Linked DNA regions of Homo sapiens: region 2 is linked to region 1. The links come from fine-mapping of genetic effects on gene expression. A gene starts in region 1. The other region holds a variant in brackets. All regions are shown on one strand. Distances are from middle to middle.

Evidence for each region. PIP is the estimated chance that this variant, and not a neighbour inherited with it, causes the effect.
Region 2: its variant is fine-mapped to the expression of TMEM125 in ovary (GTEx, PIP above 0.99).

Annotation. Positions count from the first base shown.
Region 1 is chr1:43,267,744-43,272,128 of GRCh38, reverse strand. It overlaps TMEM125 (transmembrane protein 125), which reads right to left and starts at 2,146. Exons shown (of 4, transcript NM_144626.3): 1 at 2,044-2,146; 2 at 1,336-1,448. RefSeq lists an enhancer at 2,012-2,515.
Region 2 is chr1:43,289,899-43,294,283 of GRCh38, reverse strand. No RefSeq gene overlaps it. Among named protein-coding and RNA genes, the nearest start is that of C1orf210, 6.5 kb to the right of the region's middle. The variant G/A (reference allele first, on the strand shown) is at 2,594.

The sequences.
Region 1 (4,385 bases):
CTGACCTTGACACTTCTCTTTTAGGGCTGTGTCTCCTCCTTCTCTGTGGGTTAGGACCAGACCCCTAACACCCTCCCTCCCCTAACATCCCATCCAATCTCACAGCCATGAGTTTGGTAATATAAGCTGCCAGTTCCCAAATTCCTCTCTCCAACCTACATCTCCGTCCTGAGTCAATTGTCACCTTGATGTCCCTGTGATGCAACAGGTCCCAACCCAAGCTCGTTGTCTTACTCCAACCTGTTCCTTCTGCGTTCCTCACTTCAGGCATGGCATCACTGCCCTCTCAGCCAGCTCCTCCTCCCTCTGCTGTATCTAATCCACGTCCTGTCCCTGGGGCTCCACCTCTAAACATTTCTCTAGCCAGTTCCCTGCTCTCGTATCCTTGGCTCCCGCCTCCACCTCCTCACTGGTCTTTCTGCTCCCCTTGCTCTTCTCCACACTCGCCATTCCCCCATGCCATCCTCCTCCACGATTTCTCTAAAGTGGAGCAAAGGAAAAAGGAGGGCTCTGGATTTGAACCCCAGCTCCAGTCCTTCCCACCGGTAGGAACATGGCCAGGCACCTAACAGTGGCTGCTGATTTAACCTGTCCTCCAGAGGAAAGCATGTCTCACATTGGGCAAAAATAAAGCACATGAGGTCCCTGCCTTCAAGGAGCCCCAGTCTGCAGCAGAAGACAGAGACAGAAGCAAGCAGGCCAGTGCCTGTGCTAAGTGTGGGTGTGGGTTAGTCAGCCCAGAGCCCTGCAGAGCCCAGGAGAGGGGTCTGGGGGAGGGGCCAGGAAGCCTGAATGGTTCGTCTCTTAGAGCCTCAGTCTCCTTGTCTGAAAAGTGAAGACAATAACATTTATCTTGAGGGGTGGGGATGAGTCACCTGACATCTTCGTTTCAGAATTCCAGTGGGGCCTAGAGCCTGCATAGATGCTCAAAGCGTGCTTTTTGAATACATGAAAACGATGTTACCCCTCCAAGGCAGGACAGGGCAGAAGACGTAGGTCCTGGGTCATTCTGGGAATATTACTATGTGGCCGTGCACAGGTTACATCCTGACGAGGTATCTGTCCTCCCGGAGACTCCTCTGCAGAGGCTGACCCCTACCCCCGAGGTGGGCGGGGGCTGGTGCCGATGCTCTCAAGGAAGTGGGGGAGGTGGGCGTGGCCGTGGAGTCAGTCCCAGCATTCCCCTGGGCTGTGACTTCGTTGGTCTGAAAATGCTTGCACAGGTGTGCTGAGACAACGGGTGTCAGGCTGGGGGCGGGGTGGAGGTTCTCAGGGGAGAAGCGAGTGGGAGAACATGGGGGCGGTGGGGCGTTGGGGGACAATGGGGGAACTCACGAGAAGCCTGGATGTGCTGGATCCGATCCGAGAAGGCAGGGCCGAGCAGGTGGGGCACTCTAGCTTGGTTTCCGGGGAGACACTTCACCTGCCTAACCTGCACTCAGGTGAGCCTGCCGGGAGGAGGATGAACAGGTGTCGTTTCCAGGGCAGGGCCTGAGCCGATTGGCTGACGTGGCACTGCTCCTTCTGCTGGGCTGAGGCATTCCTGTGAAGGGAGGGGCTTCTGTCCGCTGCAGTTAGGGCTCGGAACACAATTCGCAGACCTGGGCAGCAGGAGGAATGTCGTCTATCTGCCCCAGAGCCTGGGCGCCAACCCATTCCACAGCTCCGACCCCGATTTAGCTTTAGCTCCAGCTTCAAAACCAACCCCTAACTCTAGCTGCAGCTGCAAACCCTAGCTAGAACTCCCAGCTTCCACCCCTGCCCCAGCTCCTGCGTCACATCTCAGCCCCAACCCCCAGCCCCATTTCCAAATTCAATTCCAGTCCCAACTCCAAATCCAACCCCTAATCTGGCTAGAAACCTCAGCCCCCAACTCCTAACTCCAACTCAAATTCTGGACTAAGGTCCTAGATCCCAACCTCACGCTCAGCCCGAACCTCGACTCCTGTTCCTGAATCCAGCCCCCAAACCCAACGCCAACCTCAAACCCAGCTTTAGCCCCAAATTCCAACATCAGCGGACCCCCAAACACAGCCCCAGTACCTCCATCCCTTGGCCCTAGGCTGCAGCCTCCAAAAGCCCCGTGCTCATTCTCCCTCAAATGAGCCCCACAGACTGGATCCTACTGGGGAAGCAGGATTTGAGTGAACAGGGAGGAGGGGTGAAGGCCTTTCAGGCAGGAGACAGGAACTCCCAGAATAAACACTTCAGAAGAAATGCCACACTCCTTCACAAGGCTCATAAAGCCCCTGCCATATACACCAGGCCAGTCATTTGCCACTGGCACCCTGCCCTCCTCTCTGCCCTTCCAGTTTTTGAACTCAAGAGTTCTCCCTTGCCTGGGATATTTGCCACTCCCCAGCCTCAGTCTGGGCAACTTGCATTCTTCAACTGAGATGCCACCTCCTCCAGGAAGCCTTCCCTGACTTGCAGGCTGGTTTAGAGGTGCCTCTTTGGTGCACCCATGGCCCCTGTGCTTCCCCAACAACTACTCTTACTGCAATATGCTTAATTGCCTATTATGTATTTACCTGTCATTCCCTGCTAGATGTGTGGTCCCCAGCAAGCAGACGGACAGTGCCTCTTTTGCTAATCATCATGACCTCAGTAGCTAGTATGTAGGACGTAATCAATACATATTTGTTGAATGATTGATTAGCAGACTAAATGATAGCATGAACTGACAGCTGTGGGGGTTTTGAGCAGGAAGCATGTGAGAGGAAGCTGGAAAGACAAGTTTGGCTCAGGCTGTTCAGGGTCTTGAAGGCCCATAGTGAGGCACTTGGGCTGTGTAAGGGGCCCATGGAGGGTTCTAAAGTTTAATAGGGACATGGTGGGAGCTTCTAATAGGCAAATCTGGCACCACACACACACCACCCTCCGGACTGGTGAAGGGCAGGCTGGCTGGAGCTGTTGTAGGCTGTCCCTCATCTCCTGGATCAGCCCCTGTGATGTCTCTTGCTTTCTCCTCCTGATGTGTATGAACTAGAAAAGAAAAACAAGATCACCCTTATCTTGTTATTATCAGTTCACAAAATAATGGTGCTCGACCTGCTTTCGCATCTCTTTGCTTTGTTCTGCGGAGATGACTGGAGGCCAGTCATAATTCTAGAACAGCCCTGTCCGCTAGAAATATAGCCTGAGCCGCCGGGCATGGTGCCTCACGCCTGTAATCCCAGCACTTTGGGAGGCTGAGGTGGGCGGATCACGAGGTCAGGAGTTCAAGAGCAGCCTGGCCAACGTGGTGAAACCTCGTCTCTACTAAAAATACAAAAATTAGCCAGGCATGGTGGCAGGCCCCTGTAATCCCAGCTACTCAGGAGGCTGAGGCAGGAAAATTGCTTGAACTTGGGAGGCAGAGGTTCAGTGAGGCGAGATTGTGCCATCGCACTCCAACCTGGGTGACAGAGCAAGGCTCCGTCTGCGGGCGGGGGCTGGGGCACGGGGAAGAAAAAAGAAATATAGCGTGAGCTACATATATAAACTTTTCTAATAGCTGCATTCAAAAATGAAAAAGAAACCCATGAGATTAATACATTTAAATTAATACATTTTAATTCCAAAACACATTTTTATATATGTTATTGATGAGCTATTTTACAGTTTTATTTTGTACAGGGTATTTTATTTTTATTTTTAAAAATAGAGATGGGGGTCTCGCTATGTTGTCCAGGCTGTTCTCAAACTCCTGGGTTCAAGCGATCCTCCTGCCTTGGCTTCCCAAAGTGCTGAGATTACAGGCGTGAACCAAAAGTCTTGAAAATTTGGTAGGTATTATTTTATACTTACAGAGCATCTCATTTATCCCAGCCACACTGCAAATGCCCAGGCACCACATCTGTCATGTGGCTGTGTCCTTACTGGATGGCATGGCTTTAGATGTCCTTTCCCTCAGAAAAAGGTCAGTGCAGTCTGGATCAGGAGGATGGTTGGGCGGAGTGGGGTGGGGAGACAGTGGTGTGGCATTGCAGGTGTTCATCCTGCCAATTTGCAAAGCATTATAAAGGTATCCCCTTTATAATAAAGGGGCTTGACTCAGAGGAGCAGGGGAGCCAGGGGCCCAACAGGGCTTGCTGGCTGCAGATTCCTCTTGCACACATCTGACATTTATTTACCCACCCTGGTCCCCAGGTCCAGTCCCAGCCAGACCCATGGGCCAGCTGTCCCAGGCAGAGCTGCAGCAGGGGACCCATGAAATTTTCCTTCCTTTACCCCTTCCCTTAGGGGTTTGAAGGGAAATTTTTGGATGGGAGAAACAACACCTAAAAGCTTCGTTGGTTTAAACATTGATTGGGCAAGTCTCTATTCTAGTTCTGGGTCTTATCAAGTAACTTGGAGTCAAGTGGAAAGGCAGGCTCTTCACAGGGCTGTTGAACTCTGTCCCC
Region 2 (4,385 bases), 22 kb before region 1:
ATAGGTGTGTGCTACCACCCCTGGCTTCAATCTTACTTTGAGGATAAGAGGTAGTGACAACACAAGTCCATTAGTGCTCATGATGCATGATTTATTTCGTGGTGACACAGGGATGATGAGGAAAGGCTTGAAGGCAGTGTCTCAACTCCTCTTTCCCTAGCCCTTTCTCCCTGAAGGCATATTGGTGCTTTGCCAGCTCCACCCTTGCCCGCACCCTAAGGAAGGGACACTGGCTCCCACTGGGGAGTTGGAGTGAACTATGGCACCAGCACACAGGTGTGGGCTTCCTGCTCCCCTGGGGAGAGACCTCTCCTACAGACTTAAGTGGTGCCTGCCCCCAGAGGATTTCTCTATGGGAACTGCTCCAACACCCCTGGAGTCTCAGAGCTGGGGGTCTCAGGTGGGCACCAGCTTTCCTCCCTTCCCGTTTCTAACAGGGCCCCCATGAGAAAGCAAGAATGTGGCAGAGATGACCGTTGGTATTGCTGGGGCCCAGGCAGGCAGGGCTGGGAGGGGCAGCGTGGTGGGGCAGCTCTGTCCAGTGGGTCTACGGCCTCTGGCCAGCTGCATGGACACGACATCCTCAGGAGAGGGTGTGGTAGTCCCTGGCAGGCCTGCTGAGCTCTGTTCTTGCGAGACCTGGCTACCCCAGAGATAATAACCAAGGGGATTCATAGACTGCCATCGTTACACCATGCATGTGTGATATCTAATTATCTTCCTAGGTCAGATGTAGTGAGGTGGAGCTGGTGGCTTGGGAAGAAATTGTCCCATGAACCTGAGGTTAGATCCCATGTGGCAGCTCCATGACATAATCACACTGGAGTTTCAGGGTGGTGTGGTTGGTGACCCATGAGGATTGGTGAGCTCTCGCCCTCAGGGTTTCATGGCATACATGGCCCTGGATAGGCTGGTCTCCTCCTGAAGAAGTGAGGAAACCTTAGAAGATGTGTCTCAAAACATTCCTTAGTCTCAGTCTCCTGGGAAGCTCCACTGAGGATAGATCCTTTGAGCTGACTCAGGGAACTGTGACTTCTTAGGGATAACTGGCTCAGAGGGCTCGTTTTCACCAAGCTTCAAGCACAGCCCTCAGTGGGACTTCCAATGCCAGGGCATGTCTAGGAGGTCAGGGAGGGCAGACTAGGAATAGGGAAAGGCAGCCTTCTGGGAAGGTGGAGTTTGAATGAAGGAGGAAGAGTGTGGTGTCCCTAAGGACAGTCCTAAGTCCCAAGAAGGGGCTAATTCCTCTCTGGGAGGCTGGGGCTGGAAGAGGCCGGAAGCCTGGGAAATGGGCAGCCTTCCTCCAGAGGCTTACAAAGAGAAGGAAGGTGTCCTCTACCGATTCAAAAGGGGCATCTGCTTACAACAGAACAGAGGTCCCTGTACACAGAGTGGAAAGTGTTAACACCAGTTCCTTTTTTTTTTTTTTTTTTGAGACAGAGTCTCATTTCCAGGCTGGAGTGCAGTGGTGCGATCACAGCTCACTGCAGCCTCGACCTCCAAGGCTCAAGCGATCCTCCTATCTCAGCCCCCTTGATAGCTGGGACTACAGGCACACATCACCATGCCTGGCTAATTTTTTTAAAAATTTTTTATTTTTGTAGATACGGGGTTTTGCCATGTTATCCAGGCTGATCTCCAGCTCCTGAGCTCAAGTGATTGGCCTGCCTCAACCTCTCAAAGTGCTAGGATTACAGGCGTGTGTCACCACGCCCAGCCCATAACACCAGTTCTTAATCTGGAGCGAGCAAGTGAGTTGCCTGGAATTCTAACCATTCATTCATCCAATAAGTGTTTGTGGAGCATCTTATTAGCATCCGGCCTGTGAGCATATCTGTGATTGGGTGCACACATGCATTTTCCTGCATTCATCAGCTTCTCAGAAGGGCTCTGCAGCTACCCTAAGGCGAAGGCCCTCAGGCTAGAAGTCCCATCTGCTGCAGGGAGGGCTTGTGTCTGATGCAGAAGGGAGCAGGTGTGGGGAGGGGCTAGGGCGCCTCGGTTTTTTGCCTGCTCAGCACCCATTCCCTGATCTTCTGGTGGCAGCATCCTGAGTTTTCTTAGGAAATATAATCACATTTTTTTTTAAAGGAAGTGATTGCGATGTGTCACTCCAAAGATTTTGAGGAGTCCAACACCTGGATGATCAGTTTCACTCATAGGAGCAGAGGAACTTAGCTGCTGCGCCACTGAAAAGGTGCTGGACTGAGAGTCAGAAGCCCGAGTTTGGATTCTGGCTCTGCCACTGATTAACAGAGTTTTTCAGACGTTATCTACAGACCTCTGATTTTGAAGGTTGAGTTAATCGTGTGCTTTGGATAAGAGCAAAACCATCACTGGTCTGTAGACTGCACCTTGGGACCACTCCATCGTTCATATCCTAGGACTTGTCTTTGTCAACAACTGCATGCAGCCAGGCGCAGTGACTCAGGCCTGTAATCCCAGCACTTTGGGAGGCTGAGGTGAGAGGATAGCTTGAGGCCAGGAGTTTGAGATCATCCTGGGCAATAAAGCAAGACCCTGTCTCCAAAAAATAAAATAATTAGCTGGGCGTGGTGGCACAAGCCTGTAGTCCCAGCTACCCGGAAGGATC[G/A]CTTGGGCCCAGGAGACAGAGGCTGCAGTAAGCTATGATCGTGCCACTGCACTCTAGCCTGGGATAAGGTGAGACTCCGTCTCTTAAATCAATCAAACAAACAAACAAACAAAACCTGCAGGCCAGGCACAGTGGCTCATGCCTGTAATCTCAGCACTTTGGAGGCCGAGGTGGGTGGACCACGAGGTCAGGAGATAGAGACCATCCTGGCCAACATGGTGAAACACGGTCTCTATTAAAAATACAAAAATTAGCTGGGCATGGTGGCGCGTGCCTGTAATCCCAGCTACTCGGGAAGCTGAGGCAGGAGAATCGCTTGAACCAGGGAGTCGGAGGTTGCAGTGAGCCGAGGTCACGCCATTGCACTCCAGCCTGGTGACAGAGTGAGACTCTGTTTCAAAAAAAAAAAAAAAAAACCCAAAAACAAAACAAAACTGCATCCCTCGTGTAACTTCAATTTCCTTCTGCCACCATCTGCCCACCACCTCCTGTTTCTCTATTTTTTCTACTCACTCTCTCTAGTACACCAGCAACCCATCCTAAAATCCATCGATCCTACCACCTTTTTGGGTTCTCTGCACCCCTCTGTACCCACTTCCCCCTTTAACCTGACCAGATACTGTGGGCCATCATTACAACCACTCCCTTGCCTACAGCTCAGCTCCCTTGCCCACTCCCTTCTTGCTTTATCATATTTGCCCAGCAAATCCCTAATCTTGGTGAAACCCGTCTTTCCATCTTCTCCCCACCTGCACTTGGAGGGACTAGAAGAGGAAAAAACTCAGACACCCTAACTGACCATGCCCATCTACCTTAAAGGAGGCCTGAGGCTGTCTGGCAAGCCCATTATACGCCTGGGCCCATTCTCTCTGCCACGCTCTGGGGTGATGAATTCACACCTTCTTTTCTCTTCTCTTCTTCAGCCTCAGCACCCCCTTCCTGCTGTTCACTCAGCTAAGGACACTGCTTCTTATTTCTCGGGAAAAACAGAAGCCATCAGGGGAAAGCTTCCTAAGGCTCCCATCACAGACCTAGTGCATTTTACCTGTCTAAGCCACCTTCCTCCTTTGACTCAGAGGGACTCTGCTGCTCCTGTCCAAGGCCAACCCTCCCCGTGCACTTGACCCCACCCTCTCGATTCCTCAGGGACTCCACACTTGCCTTGTCCCTTCTCTTCCTTCTGCATCATCAATTTCCAGTCTCTCTTGGCTTATTCTGGCCAGCATTACACACATGGTCTAACAGCTCCTCCCCTTAAAGCAAAATCCTCCCTTAGTCCCACACCCCTCTCCAGTGTCAGTCCCATGTCTCTGCTCCTTTTATAGCAAAACTCCTTGGAGGTGTGGTCTCCACTTCCTCTGGTCCCATACTTATGCTTCACTCCAATCAGGCAGTTGTCCCCAGAACACTCTCTTGTCTCGTAAAACTGCTCTTGGCTGGGTGCGGTGGCTCACACCTGTAATCCAAGCACTCTGGGAGGCTGAGATGGGTGGATCACGAAGTCAGGAGATCAAGACCATCCTGGCTAACATGGTGAAACCCCGTCTCTACTAAAAATACAAAAAAATTAGCCGGGCGTGGTGGTGGGCGCCTGTAGTCCCAGCTACTTGGGAGGCTGAGGCAGGAGAATGGTGTGAACCCGGGAGGCAGAGCTTGCCGTGAGCTGAGATTACGCCACTGCACTCCAGCTTGGGCGACAGAGCAAGAGTCCATCTCAAAAACAAAAACAAAAACAAAACAAAACAAAAAAAACCTGCTCTCATTGCTAGGCACGGTGGCTCACGCCTATAAT